Linked DNA regions of Homo sapiens: region 2 is linked to region 1. Evidence: fine-mapped QTL for protein levels in blood plasma. Region 1 holds a variant in brackets. A gene starts in the other region. All regions are shown on their forward strands.

Region 1 (6,291 bases):
TTCCTTGACTGGTGAGGTTGACTGTAACTTATTAAAAAAATGACTTCTGGGGGCCGGGCGTGGTGGCTCACGCCTGTAATCCCAACACTTTGGGAGGCCGAGGTGGGCAGATCACGAGATCAGAAGATCAAGACCATCCATCCTGACTAACATGGTGAAACCCTGTCTCTACTAAAAATACAAAAAAATTAGCCAGGCGTGGTAGTGGGTGCCTGTAGTCCCAGCTACTTGGGAGGCTGAGGCAGGAGAATGGTGTGAACCCGGGAGGCGGAGCTTGCAGTGAGCCTAGATTGAGCCACTGCACTCCAGCCTGGGCGACAGTGCAAGACTCTGTCTCAAAAAAAAAAAAAAAAAAAAAAAAGACTTCTGAGGCCATGCACAGTGACTCACACCTGTAATCCCAACAGTTTGGGAAGGAGAGGCAGGAAGATCGCTTGAGCCCAGGAGTCTGAGACCAGCCTAGGGAAAACAGAGATACCCCTATCTCTCTCTTTTTTTTGAGATGGAATCTTGCTCTGTCACTCGGGCTGGAGTGCAGTGGCACAGTCTCAGTTTACTGTAACCTATGCCTCCCGGGCTCAAGCGATTCTCATGCCCCAGCCTCCCGAGTAGCTGGGACTACAGGCGCGTGACACGGCACTGGGTAACTTTCGTATTTTTTTAATAGAGCTGGTTTTCGCCATGTTAGCCAGGCTGATCTTGACCTCCTGACTTCAGGTGATCTGTCTGCCTCAGCCTCCTAAAGTACTGGGATTAGAGGCCAGGCATGAGCCACTCCGCCCAGCTGGGTTTTTTTTCTTTTTTTTTTTTGAGACAGAGTCTCGCTCTGTGGCCCAGGCTGGAGTGCAGTGGCACGATCTCGGCTCATGGCAAGCTCTGCCTCCTGGGTTCACGCCATTCTCCTGCCCCAAGTAGCTGGGACTACAGGCGTCCGCCATCACGCCCAGCTAATTTTTTTTTTTTTTTTTGTATTTTTAGTAGAGACATGTTAGCCAGGATGGTCTCGATCTCCTGACCTTGTGATCCGCCCGCCTCGGCCTCCCAAAGTGCTGGGATTACAGGCGTGAGCCACCACGCCCCGCCCCCAGCTGGGTTGTTTCTTAAGGATTCAAAATCCAAAGGTAGGTCTCTAGTGAGGGACAGTAGGGCTCTAGTCATTCCATCGATGTGATCGCTGGGCAAAGGGAGGGTGGAGGACCTTGGGCTGACCTCAGGGATGGTGCCAGAGAGAACGTGTGCTCATCCTGAAACTGCTGTGTGACTTGAGAGGTTTCCTGGTCCTCTCTGAGCAGGGCTCACCATACCAGTGCCAGGTGGGACCTCCCTGCCAAGGAGCTGAGCCCAGAGCCCAGAGTAGGGTATCATGAGGACCTCTTCCCTCAGGCTCAGGGCAAGCTAGGACCTGCTTGAGGCTTGCAGGGGCAGTTAGGCCATCTGTGCACCTCGTTGGGGTCTTGGCCCTCATTGGACCCTCCAGTGCCTTCCCTGGCCAGGGCTGGGTGGGAGATGGAGCTGCCAGCCTGCTGGAAATTTTTCTCCCCCTGGGGCCCAGGGCTGGGAGCCAAGGGCAGCTGGTGCCCAGGAGGAGGGAGAAGGCCCCACGGGCTGGGCGTGCCATGAACCACATGTGAGATCCGGGGCATACAGGGAGGCAATGGGGGTTTGAGGGCAGTGCTGGGGTTCCAGAGGGGGCAGGCCAGAGCCCCCCAACATCGGCCAGGTGGCTGGGCCTCTGCCCTCGTGGGACCCAGGGAGGGTTTCCATGTCCCTCTAAGCCTCAGAGGAAATTCCAGAGGCAGAGAAAGAGAAGTTGGGAAAGGGAGCTCTTCACTCTGACATCAGCTGAGGTAGAGGCGGAGACCACAGGGGCTCCAGGGGCGTCAGAGGACAGAGCAGCCTGTCCCCACACCTCTTACCCCCTGGGGACTGGGCCTGCCCCAGCCTGTTAGGAAGCCCTGGCCTGGCCTGCCGAGGGCCCCGTCCCCCTCCCAGGACCCGTGGCTTGCAGCCAGGTGGTGGGGAGAGGGGCCCAGGTGTGTGGTGTGGGTGGCAGGTGAGTGATGGGCCCAGCAAGGCTGGCTCAGGCCCGGGGTCACCAGAGGGTTTGGTAGAGACTCTTCAGGCCCCCCACACCCTCCCCACCCTATGCCCCTCCACCCTCCCACCTGGGCCTCAGGGAGGCATCACAGGCACCTCTGCACCTCCACTGTACAGATGGGGAAACTGAGGCTCAGAGAGCACCTGGGATTCACCACCACCACCCACGTCTTGGTCTCCCCTGGCAATTTTATTTTACTTTATTTTATTTTATATATATATATTTTTTTTGAGACGGAGTCTTGCTCTGTCACCCAGGCTAGAATGCAGTGGTGCAATCTTGGCTCACTGCAACCTCCACCTCCTGGGTTCAAGTGATTCTCGTACCTCAGCCTCCCAAGTAGCTGGGATTACAGGCGCATGTCACCACGCCAGGCTAATTTTTGTATTTTTAGTAGAGACGGGGTTTCACCATGTTGGCCAGGCTGGTCTCCAACTCCTGACCTCAGGTGATCTGCCCGCCTCCACCTCCTAAAGTGCTGAGATTACAGGCGTGACCCATTGCACCTGGCCTATTATTATTGTTATTTTTGAGATGGAGTCTCACTGTGTCGCCCAAACCGGAGTGCAGTGGCGCCATCTCAGCTCACTGCAAGCTCCACCTCCTGGGTTCACGCCATCCTCCTGCCTCAGCCTCTGGAGCAGCTGGGACCACAGGCACCCGCCATGACACCTGGCTAATTTTTTGTATTTTTAGTAGAGACGGGGTTTCACCGTGTTAGCCAGGATGGTCTCGATCTCCTGACCTCGTGATCCACCCTCCTCGGCCTCCCAAAGTGCTGAGATTACAGGCGTGAGCCACCGTGCCTGGCCGGCCTATTATTTTTTATTTAGAGACGTGGTCTTGCTATATTGACCAGGCTGGTCTTTAACTCTTGGCCTCAATCAATCCTCCTACCTCAGCCTCCCAAAGTGCTGGGATTACAGGCGTGAGCCACAGCGCCTGTCCACCCTTGGCATTTTGTAGACAGCAGCAATTTCCCTCAACCCCAGAATATTTGGAATGTTCCAGAAGTCCTCATTTACAGTCGATCCCACCTGTACCCTATAAGTGGTGGTCCTGGGCTTGAACTTGGACCTGTCTGAACTCTGAGCTCTTAACCCCTGAGGTGAGAACCTGGGGTGAGCTCTTAACCCATGGGACCAACCCCTCTAGAGTGAGGAGACACGTCATCATTTTTCCTTGCAGTATTACATCTGGAAACCGTGCCGTGATGATCTCTCTGCACCCCTCACAGGCGGCTAACAACATCACAAACAAATCAGCCAGAACCATCACTCCCGGGTGGGGCCCCAAGTAAGCCAGTTCCCCAGGGCCCAGGGCCCTCCAGGGTGAGGTCCCCAGCAGGTGAGATTCAGTGTGGCAAGGTCTCTGGGAGCAGGTCCCAGCAGGTAAAGTCCCCGACCGCCGACATCCTCAGTAGGTGCAGCCTCCAGCAGCCAAGGTCCCCAGCAGGTGAGGTCCCCAGCAGGTGAGGTCCCCAACAGGCGAGGTCCCCAGCAGGCGAGGTCCCTAGCAGGCAAGTCTTCTGGAGGGGAGAGGCTCCTGGCAGCCGTGAAGCCCAGCGTGTGAGGTCCCAGGTAAGAGAGAGGGTTGGCCACAAAGGACTCCAGCAGGTGAGGCCCCAGGCAGATGAGGTTCCCGGCAGCCCAGGCACCATGCCGGCCTCTCAGGTGAACCAAGCCGCTATGCTGCGCACCGTCTGGTACCTGGATTCCTGCTGCAGTTTCCAGCAGGCCTTGCAGAAATCCAGTGCCCAGCTGAAGGAGCGAGGCCGCAGCGTCTCCCGCCAGCGAAAGTAGCTCAGGTAGCGGGCGTGGTCCTTGTCCAGCTCCTGCAGGTACCGGGCCAGGTCCTTGGGGCTCTGGAAGTCGTCCACGTGGATGAAGGCGTCGGGTGGCAGGAACCTCTCGTAGTTGCTTCTGCTGGGGCCCAGCACCACGGGCACGGCCCAGGCCTCCAGGGCGTTCCTCCACAGCTTCTCGGTGATGTAGTCGGGGTGCAAGGAGTTCTCGAAGGCCAGGTAGAACTTGTACCGGGACAGCGTCTCCATCATGGTCCCCTTGGGCAGGGGCTTGTGGGAGCGTCCGTACACGTCCACCTTGAGATGAGCCTGCAGGCTCTGGTAGTAGCGCACCCTGGCTGAGTCCGGCTTCCAGTTGGACACCGCCCAGGCCACCAGCTCGGTCTTGGCCGAGAGGTTGAGCGGTGGGTGGGCAGGCTGGCCGGACCACGGCTCCAGCCAGCCGTAGGGCGTGAAGATGTCGGAGTCGCTGCGGTAGGACATGGTGAGATTGAAGTATCTGTCCAGGGCTTCCAGGTGCTGGCAGTTAGGGGGTGGCTCCAAGTTGAACCAGATCCAGCGCTGCCCCTGCGGCCTCGGGGAAGGTGGGAGGCGTGACTTAGGGTTGGACATGATATCCCAGTGGTGCACGATGACCATGTCTGCCTGTGGGTACACCTTGCGGTCGGCAGTGATGTGGCAGTCGGCTGTGCCGGGCACCATCTCTGAACAGCGGGACAGAGCCACAGGGATGTGGAAAGGCCATGTCC[G/A]TAGCAGGATCAGGAGGGTGGGGCGGGTGGGAGTGGTGTCCTGTCGGGAGGACCCACTGGGAGCCCTAGGGGATCCAGTGGCATCGTCTCGGGACACACGCAGGTAGGAGAAGAAACACACAGCCACCAGCAGCTGAAATAGCAGTGCGGCCAGACAGCGGCGCCATGGCCATTGTGGCTTGGCTGCACCCAGGGGATCCATGGGTCAGAGTATCTGGGAAGAGAGGAGAGAGGAGTGAGGGTCATTGATGACAATCTCCTGCTTACCAAAGCTCCGGGCCATGAGTCCTGAGAGGAGCTGCTATTATTCCTGTTTCACAGATGAGAAAACTGAGACCAAGTGACTCACAGCAAAAATCAGCACAGCTGGTGTTTGAACAAAGGGACCTTGTCCCAGAGTCCACTTCCTTCTACCTATTAGACAAGACCTTTCCTGGAATCCCCGAAGTCTTCCCCAGTCTACTGAAATACAAGTGCCCTGGAGGCAGGGGAGAAGGCATAGCCGGTCATCATTGCTTCCCATGTCACTGAGGCAAGGCTTGAATCCATGACTCAGCCAGAGAAAGGTACAATGGGACTGGGTTTTGCAGGTAATATATGAGCTGACCGGCCGAGCAGAGTGGCTCACACCTGTAGTCCCAGCACTTTGGGAGGCCGAGGTGAGCAGATCACCTGAGGTCAGGAATTTAAGACCAGCCTGGCCAACATGATGAAACCCCATTTCTACTAAAAATACAAAAATTAGCTGGGTGTGGTGGTGCACACCTGTAGTCCCAGCTACTTGGGAGGCTGAGGCACGAGAATCACTTGAACCCAGGAGGCGGAGGTTGCAGTGAGCCAAGATGACACCACTGCATTCCAGCCTGGGTGACAGAGGGAGATTGTGTCTCAAAAATAAATAAATAAATAATAGCCGGGTTTGGTGGCTCATGCCTGTAATCCCAGCACTTTGGGAGGCTGAGGCAGGTGGATCACTTGAGGTCAGGAGTTTGAGACCAGCCTGGCCAACATGGTGAAACCCTGTTTCTACCAAAAATACAAAAATAAGCCGAGTGTGGTGGCTCATGCCTGTAATCCCAGCTGCTCGGGAGGCTGAGGCATGAGAATCACTTGAACCTGGGAGGCAGAGGTTGCAGTAAGCTGAGATCATGCCACTGCACTCCAGCCTGGGTGACAGAGCAAGATTCCATCTCAAAAATAAATAAATAAATAATTTTTTTAAAAAAAGACCAGCCTGGGCAACATGGCAAAATCCCAACTCTACTAAAAATACAAAAATTTGCCGGGCAAGGTGGCATGCGCCTGTAGTCCCAGCTACTTGGGGGAATTGCTTTAGTCTGGAAGTTTGAGGCTGCAGCAAGCTGTGATCATGCCACTTAACCCCAGCCTGGGTGATGGAGCAAGACCTTGTCTTAAAAAAATAAAATAAAAGGCTGGGCTCGGTGGCTCACACCTGTAATCCCAGCACTTTGGGAGGCTGAGGTGGGCAGATCCCAAGGTCAGGAGATCGAGACCATCCTGGCTAACATGGTAAAACCCCGTCTCTACTAAAAATACAAAAAATTAGCCAAGCGTGATGGCGGGCGCCTGTTGTCCCAGCTACTACTGGGGAGGCTGAGGCAGGAGAATGGCGTGAACCC
Region 2 (8,134 bases), not on the chromosome of region 1:
TGCTGCGTGCTGAAGAGTTTTGTGTAGTACTGATGATGCCAAGGTTGCAGTGAGCTAACGTGCATTTTTTCTATCAGCCAAGGGTCTAGAGAGAGCTGGGAGCAGGCAGATTGTGAGTTATTTGCGCAAGAGGGCTATGTGTCCTGGACCATGAAGAAAGGCAGACTTATAGCTTATCTGCCTTTTTTTTTTTTTTTTTTTTTTTAGACAGAATCTCACTCTGTTGCCCAGGCTGGACTACAGGCACCTGCCACCATGCCTGGCTAATTTTTGTATTTTTAGTAGAGATGGGGTTTCACCATGTTGGCCAGGCTGTTCTCGAACTCCTGACCTCAAGCGATCCACCCATCTCTGCCTCCCAAAGTGCTGGGATTACAGGCGTGAGCCACCGCGCCCAGCCTGCTGTCTCTTTTTGCTTTCCCTTGATCCCACCAGCCCAATTCTCCACTTCCCCCAGCCCCCAATTAGGACTCCACAATTCTCCCAACTCCACTTAAGGTGAGAGGTCATGAAGTGCTAGCTCGGTTGCCGGGCCACTTTATGAGGATGGCAGGGAGGGGATTCTGAGAGGAGTGGACAGGAGGTGCCCCATGGGTGTCTATGCTGGCACAGGTCCCTGTTGCAACTCACAGTGTTATTCTTGCCATTCCCACTTTCTCGGATCTTTACAAGCCTGCCCCTACTCCTTATTTAGGTCTCAGCTCAAATACCACCTCCTTGGAGAAATCTCTGCTGACCACACTTGCTGAACTGACAGCCAGCTCCTCCCCTGCCCTTCTCTGATATGGGATGAATTGTGTCCCTCTCTCTTTGCAAAAACATTTATGTCAGTACCATCCGAGCCCCGGATACGTCAGAATGTGACTGTTTTTGGAGATAGGGCCTTTAAGGGGGCAATTAAGTTAAAATGAGGTCTTAATCTAATACGAATGTGTCCTTCTAACAAGAGGAGATTAGGACACAGACAGGCATATAAGAAAGACCATGTGAAGATATAGAGAGACGTAAAAGCCAAGGAGAGAGGCCTCAGAAGAAACCCACCCTTCCAACATCTGATCTTGGACTTCTGGCCTCCAGAATTGGGAGAAAATAAATTTCTGTTATTTAAGTTACTCAGTTCCTGGTGCTTTGTTATGGCAGCCTTAGCAAGCTGGCACACTCTCTATCCCTTTCCCTGGTTTTATACTTCCTCAAGAGGCAGGTTAATGCTGTAGCGTGGTTAAGAGCGTAGCCCTGGGTGTGGCTGCAATAAGGGCAGTAGTAGTGGCAGCAGCCACTTCCTGTCTATAGACAGAAGTGACTGGTGGGAATGTGGGTTTGGTGATGGCTAGTGCTGAAGACAGGCCTGGGTTAGGCTTGAAGGACAAACAAGGAAGGTTAGGCTGAGGTGGCCAGGGCTGAGGTTGGGCTGGAGAAGGGGTTTTGCACCTGCGGTGGCACCTGGGACACCTCTTCTCCCTGATGCTGTTGGCCTGCCCATCCAAGGCAGGAGGGGCTAGCTCCCTTCTAAGCAGGTTCTGGCTCTCACTCTGTCCCAGGGGGCTCTAGTTGCAACCCAGGTGGTAAGACCTTGTAAACCATCATTGGGCACATTACTGCCACCAACCCTATTTCATTTGTTGACCAGGTTTTGGTGAGCCTGTTCATTCAGCAAGCTAGAAGGGGTGGATTTTGCAAAATAGTTGAGGCATATATTAGGCCCCCACTAAAGGCCTTGGATATGAGTAAGTACATATAGATAACTGGGACTAGAAACAGCAGACAGCCACAGTCATTTCGTTCTGAAACTGGAAATTACTTTGTCTTCAAGGCATAAATGGTTCCCCAGAACACTCAGCCTCTCTTTCAGTCCCTAAGTCTGCCAGCCACCCAGATTCCAGTTGTTGGCACCAGAAAGACCAAGTGCCCTGAGGCCTGACTCAACTCTTCACTTGTCACCCAGATGTGTTAACACCATGTAGACACAGAATTGCCAAACTTGCCTGGGCTGCCCAGGGTCCAAATGTGAAAACTGGAAAGCAGCCGCTTTGCTCTTTTCTGGCTGTTCCTGTATTCTGCTGTCTACACGACTTAATACCAAGATTTTTGTTTATATTTCATAGGAACTTCAGCTTTTGTGAGACATTCTTTCCCTATCTGGCCCACTGTAGTGCTAATTTCTGGGAAATTTCTCTCCTCTTTTCTGGCTTGTTCCAGGTTCACTCACTTTTTATATTTTCATAATTCTTCTATTCTCCTCTCTTTTTCCTTTCTCTCTGGTTCTATTTTCCTATTTAAAAGGTGACTTTAAAAAACTGGCTTTGCTGCCGGGCGCAGTGGCTCACGCCTGTAATCCCAGCACTTTGGGAGGCTGAGGTGGGCAGATCACCTGAGGTAGGGAGTTTGAGACTAGCCTGACCAACGTGGAGAAACCCCATCTCTACTAAAAATTGGCCAGGGTGGTGGTGCATGCCTGTAATCCCAGCTACTGGGGAGGCTGAGGCAGGAGGAGAATCACTTGAACCTGGGAGTGGAGGTTGCGGTGAGCCGAGCAAAACTCCGTCTCAAAAAAATAAAATAAATAAATAAATAATCGGCTCTGCTTTCTTCTCCAATTACTGTCTTTCTTTCTCTTTTCTGCTTATCCTTAAAGACTTTCCCTTTTTGTTCTCATCTTCATCTCCTACTCTCTTCTGGCTCTAACTGAAGTTCTCACGCAGCTTCCCTCCTGACCTTCTGGACAGCCACCTGCTTTCCCAAGTTTCCTCCTTTCCCTCCTGTGGAGATGCCTCTCTTAGAATCCTTGCTTTTATCAGCGGCTTACAATCTCTGCATCCGTAGAAACCAGACAGCCTTTTTGTTTGAGGGCTAACACTTGCCTTGTCCCTATTTCAAATAACACAGTGAGCTGTACATAGAAGTTACTCAATGATATCTTAATTGATTTTATTGGGTTCCTTTTTACGCTTATCTTAGAAAAGGGATGTGACTTTGGATTGGGTAATAAAGAGCCGTTTATTGCATGTGTACAAATTATAAATTCCCAGGCACACCCTGATCATAGCAGGATCCTTTTGTTAGCTTTATGGGGCATGAAGTTGGCACCAAAGTATTCATGGGGATGTACAAGTAAGGAAGGGAAGCCAAAAGCATGTCTGATCATACAATCAGGTGTAAGCAAGCCCCCTAAGTAGCCAGGGCATGAACTTTGTCTATCTCTGAAATGACCAGAAGAAAAGGCAAGAGTGTGATTCATCCCTTGCCTCCACAGCAATTCATTTGGCTATCTACTTTTCTTATTACCAATGGCTAACCCTCTAAGGGTACCACTCCTGGCCATGAGGCCTCATGACTCAAAGTCTTAAGATTTATAGCATTTTCCCTGGAGACCAAGGGCATTCCTTTGGGTGATACCTTTTTACTACCCAGAGGTTAGTCATTTACTATGGGTGATCCATTCAAATAAATTGGTTGCCAGGCTACCTCTTCAGATAAGAGTTCAAACTTGCATAAATAATCCCCAGCCACACTGTGACTTCTATGTGCAAGCCTAGAGGGGACGATGTTGCAGGAACCGTGCCAACCACTAAGACACTTTCAAGTTTATCCTAGAGAATGCCAAGACAGCTTCTCAATTCCATCAAGTGAGTCCTTCACAGGAACATTTCCCTAAGTTGAAAAACTGCAGGAAATAATTTATCTTTATGTTATTAATTGGTTACTATAAGGGCTACAGGAATTATTTAGGAACCAGATGATACCTGGTTTTCTCCATAGTTTACATAAGCCAGTCCCTGCAAAGATTCTTCCCCTACCCCCCTTAATTTTTTTTTTTTTCCTCAGAGATCCTTGTTCCAACCTGCAAGGATTCTTTGGCCTGGTGCTTTTCCAGGTAAAGTGTAAGAGCCAGGATTTCTGGATTTTGTTCCTAGACATGAGTGAGCTTGGATAAGTAAATCATTTTCTCTTTTAGTCTGTTTGGGCTTCTGTAACAAAATATCATAAACTGGGTAGCTTATAGGCAATATACATTTATTTCCCACAGTTCTGAAGGTCGGGAAATCCAAGATCCAGGCCAGCAGATTTGATGTCTGGTGAGGGCCTGCTTTCTGGTTCACAGAGGGAGCCTTCTGGCTGTGTCTTCACAAGGTGGAAGTGGCAAGGGGTCTCTCTCCGGCCTCTTTTATTAGGGCACCAATCTCATTCATAAGGACCCTGCCCCTATGACCTAATCACTTCCCAAGGCCTCCACTTCCTAATACATCACCGTGAGGGTTAGGATTTCAACATATGAACTTTGGCGGGATATAAACATTCAGACTATAGCACCCTGACAGTAAAAATGAGATAATAATACTTATCTCTTTCTTCCAACAAAAAGATAAGGTGAAGTTAAAAGGAGGGTATATATATATATAATGTGAATTTCCTGTGTAAAATGTGTTAAAGAGTTGTCTGATTAATTGCTTTATAAGGGAATTGCTTTGAGACTAGGCCTATTGATCTAGAATAAGTAGTCAATTTGTAGTCAGTTCCCTAGGGAATAGACATTGAAAAGATTTTTGGTTTTGTATTCTACAAATAAAGCAACCTATTAATTGAATTCCTCTCAGCGAATTCTTCACTCAGGTGATTCTGGAGAGGGCGGGGGACAGACGCGGCCGCAGCCCAGGTCCCGGGAGCGCCACGGAACCTAACGGTGGCAGCGGAGGTCGCGCCCCTCAGTGCCCGCGCTCTCCCCGTCGGGAGCTTCCTGGTCGCCCCTGCGGCGGCGGCTCGGGGTGTCTGGCCGGCGCGGGGCTCGCCCAGCCTGGTCCGGGGAGAGGACTGGCTGGGCAGGGGCGCCGCCCCGCCTCGGGAGAGGCGGGCCGGGCGGGGCTGGGAGTATTTGAGGCTCGGAGCCACCGCCCCGCCGGCGCCCGCAGCACCTCCTCGCCAGCAGCCGTCCGGAGCCAGCCAACGAGCGGTGAGCTGCGCGGGGCGCGGGGGACGCGGCTCCGGCCGGGCAGGGGAGAGGGCGCCCGGGCGCTGCTTGGGGCGCGGTCCGGAGAGGGTTCGGCTCCCCGGGACCGGGCCGGGGCGCGCGCGGAGAGCCCCACAGCCTGTGCTCTGCCCTCCAGGAGCGGGGCGGCGGGCAGCGATCTGGGCCCGGGGCAGTCGCCTTTGATTATCGAGGGCGCTGGCGTTCGGGGAAGGTTGGCAGCACCTTACGAGACCCACACACGTCCCCGGGGCGGCACGGGCCACCTTCTGCGGAGCCTCGTGGGCTTCGCCGCCGTCGCACCTCCGCCGCCTGCGCTCTGCGGCCCCAGAGTAAGCCCCATCCGGTGACGAGCCGCAGTCTGGTCACCCCAGTCCCACCAGGTCCCGCTGCGAGGGGAGGCGGAGGGGCTCGCTCAGCAAACCAGACGGCCGCTCCAGTTTCTCTAATTGGGGTTGGAGCCCCGTCACCCTTCCCCAGATCACGGCCGCGGGGGAGCGAAGGGACTTCCCAGGACTGCATAGGGCGCCTCCCGGGACCCACAGCTTGGCTGGCCCGGCCCCTTTTGAGCATCAGCTGAGGCTGGACTTGGAGGAGATCTCGCTGTGGAGCGCGAATGAGTTCTTCCACCGGGACCAGCTGCGGCCGGGCTGCAGCCGCTGTCTGGTTGCTGATCCCACAGAAAATGGTGCTTGCCCCATGGCCTGAGTGGGCATGACCCGGCTTTGCAAAGACTGCAAACTCTAAGCTTTTCCGAATCAAATGCCCCTCCCTGCCCAGACTGTCTGTGCCCAGGAAATGGTGGGTGTGGCAAAATGTTGGTCCTAGCGTGCAGAGCCCTACCGGGGGGCTTTCACAACATGTTTGAGAGTTTATTCTGAATTATCGGGTGCTCAAATAGAAACACTAAAACGATTGCCCTCTGAGCAGTAGGCGTTCAGGTCCAGGGAGTCGGGGACGCATGGTGGAGGCTGGGACTTAGGTTTCAGCCTTACCCTTCAAGTTCGCCATGCGGGTTCCAGAGACTGCGGAATGTTTGTAAAGTGACTCTGGGAATTGGGTTGCTGCGCAATGAGGACACCTGGACCTCAGTGACTCAGGCTGTCTCTAGGATTCTGGGGAAGAAATGGGAGAAGGCTCAGTTAATTCTGAAGAAAATGAGACTGATACAATTAACTACTTGGGCACAGGGCCTGAGAAGAAAAAGCTTTCGTCAGCTTCCAAAGTTCTGATTTGTTTACCTAAGGTTTTTTTTTTTTTTGAGACGCAGTTTCGCTCTTGTTGCCCAGGCTGGAGTGCAACGGCACTATCTCGGCTCACCGCAACCTCTGCCTACCGGGTTCAAGCGATTCTCCTGCCTCAGCCTCCCGAGTAGCTGGGATTACAGGCATGCGCCACCATGCCCGGCTAATTTTGTATTTTTCGTGGTGGTGGTGGTGGGGGGGGGGGGGTCCCTCCATGTTGGTCAGGCTGGTCTCGAACCCCCGACCTCAGGTGACCCGCCTGCCTCGGCCTCCTAAAGTGCTGGGATTATAGGCGTGGGCCACTGCGCCTGGCCTACCTCAAGTTTATAAACATTTCATACTAGGAAATTGTGTGTTTCCATAAAAGGTAAAGTTGAATAATGATCATTTACTTTTCTACAACAATAGTCTCCCTTTTAGACATTGACTCTCAATCCTTAGGGTAGGGTCTCTCATTCTAAAGATGATCATACCCCATCCTTGATCTTTGGGGGACTTAAGCAACTTCCTAAATTCATAATATTTAGAGGTGATGTTTAAAATCAGCACTTAGTCCAGATTCTGGGGAGAAGTTTGATGATGGTCCTTGAATATTTAGCACTTAGAAGTGCTAGGAGGATGCCTCACTAAGTTACGTAAGAAGCAGAAGAGGACGAGTACCGCCTGATGGATTGACCCCGAAAACTAGCTGTGTCCAAGTAGAATAGGTGTCTCGCTCTGTTAAGCGGTCTTTAAACTATGATAGTTCGCTGTACTACAAATATGCATAGGTGCTTTACAAAGACTTTTCACTTAGTGAGGTCAAGAGGCTAATGCTGGTCTCATGTATAATTTAGGTACCTTTTTACATAGAACCCTCATTAGCCAGACTCTAAACCTTAACTGCAGCCAAGACCTTTGTTCATGTAGTATGCCTTCAGAATCTCGTGTTGACCTTAAATGCCAAGTGGCTTGTAAACTTATGTACTTGATACTTGTGGTAACTGATCTCAAACATAGCTCTTCTTTCCTGTGATCGTTTGGGACACAGGCTCCCACTCAAGGGTAGCTCCTTGTGTCTGGTGCCTGAACTGGATCTTCTCATTAAATTCTGAGTGGGTAACTTAAGAACCAGTCTAGGCTGTGCTTGCTGTATACTTCCAGTTCGCTATTGACCAAGTGTCATGTGTTCTCTTTTGAACTGTTCAGCTTTTCCGTAGGGGGGAAGATCAGTCATGAGAAGCAGAAAGTAACTCTACCTTCCTTGATGCCAGGGAGCTATGATGAGAAAGAAATCCTAGGAAAGGACCAGTTCCCCTTATTCCAACTTAGCATCACTGAATTTGTCTTTGGCAAATGGGCTTTCCTCAAGTCCTGCTCTGTGTTTCAGCAAGGACAGGAAGTAGACTGCCTCTTGTGTTACTTGAGGAGCAGTGTAGGGCAGTGCCTAGGGGCTCAGGAAGTAGTCTTCTTCTGTGACGGTTGCGCACAGGTCAGGGACCTTTATGAGCAGACATTTCAGAAGTGTTCCTGGGAACCCAGACAACTGGACTGATTGCTGGGTGGGCCTAGAATAGCATAGTGCAGCGGATAGCTACTCTTTGTTAAAGGGAAAAGCTACCAATTAACAGCCGATTAAAATGGTCTGTATTCTAACTCATGTTTAAATTCCTTATTCTGAAGCTACACTGAACTGCTTACTGTAGGTGTTTACAAATGTGGAGACCCAGCTAGTATTTCTCTACTTTTAGTTTATTTTTTGAAGTTTTTTTTTTTTCCCCTCTGACTGTTCAAAATTCTCTGATCCTGGAAACACCAGGGTGGGGTTCACATATCTATAGTGTCTGTAGAGTGGGAAGATTTGTGACATTTGATTGTATGTCTCTCTCTGTAAACTACTCATCTGAAAAGAAAAAAGAAAAAAATTTCAGGCAAGTAAGGATGATACTTA

Which allele goes with the higher level. Positions count from the first base shown, and alleles are read on the strand shown. Strength reflects both the effect of a copy and how common the allele is.
With allele A in place of G in region 1, the plasma level of the protein whose gene starts at base 4,897 in region 2 is higher (weak association).

What was found. PIP is the posterior inclusion probability: the model's chance that the variant is causal. Protein levels are from antibody-based Olink assays in UK Biobank. Linkage for the fine-mapping came from a reference panel and not from the study's own genotypes, which makes the PIPs less certain.
Region 2: it holds the start of LGALS3, and the variant in region 1 is fine-mapped to the plasma level of the LGALS3 protein (UK Biobank, PIP 0.92).

What each region holds. Positions count from the first base shown.
Region 1 is chr19:5,839,987-5,846,277 of GRCh38, forward strand. FUT3 (fucosyltransferase 3 (Lewis blood group)) reads right to left here. Exons shown (of 3, transcript NM_001382750.2): 3 at 2,902-4,865. The coding sequence starts at 4,853. The coding sequence ends at 3,768. Among named protein-coding and RNA genes, the nearest start is that of FUT6, 3.4 kb to the left of the region's middle. The variant G/A (reference allele first, on the strand shown) is at 4,652.
Region 2 is chr14:55,124,356-55,132,489 of GRCh38, forward strand. It overlaps LGALS3 (galectin 3), which reads left to right and starts at 4,897. Exons shown (of 6, transcript NM_002306.4): 1 at 4,897-4,945. LOC124903319 reads left to right here. Exons shown (of 3, transcript XM_047432036.1): 3 at 695-1,112. The coding sequence ends at 749. RefSeq lists a silencer at 4,593-5,192 and an enhancer at 5,543-5,732.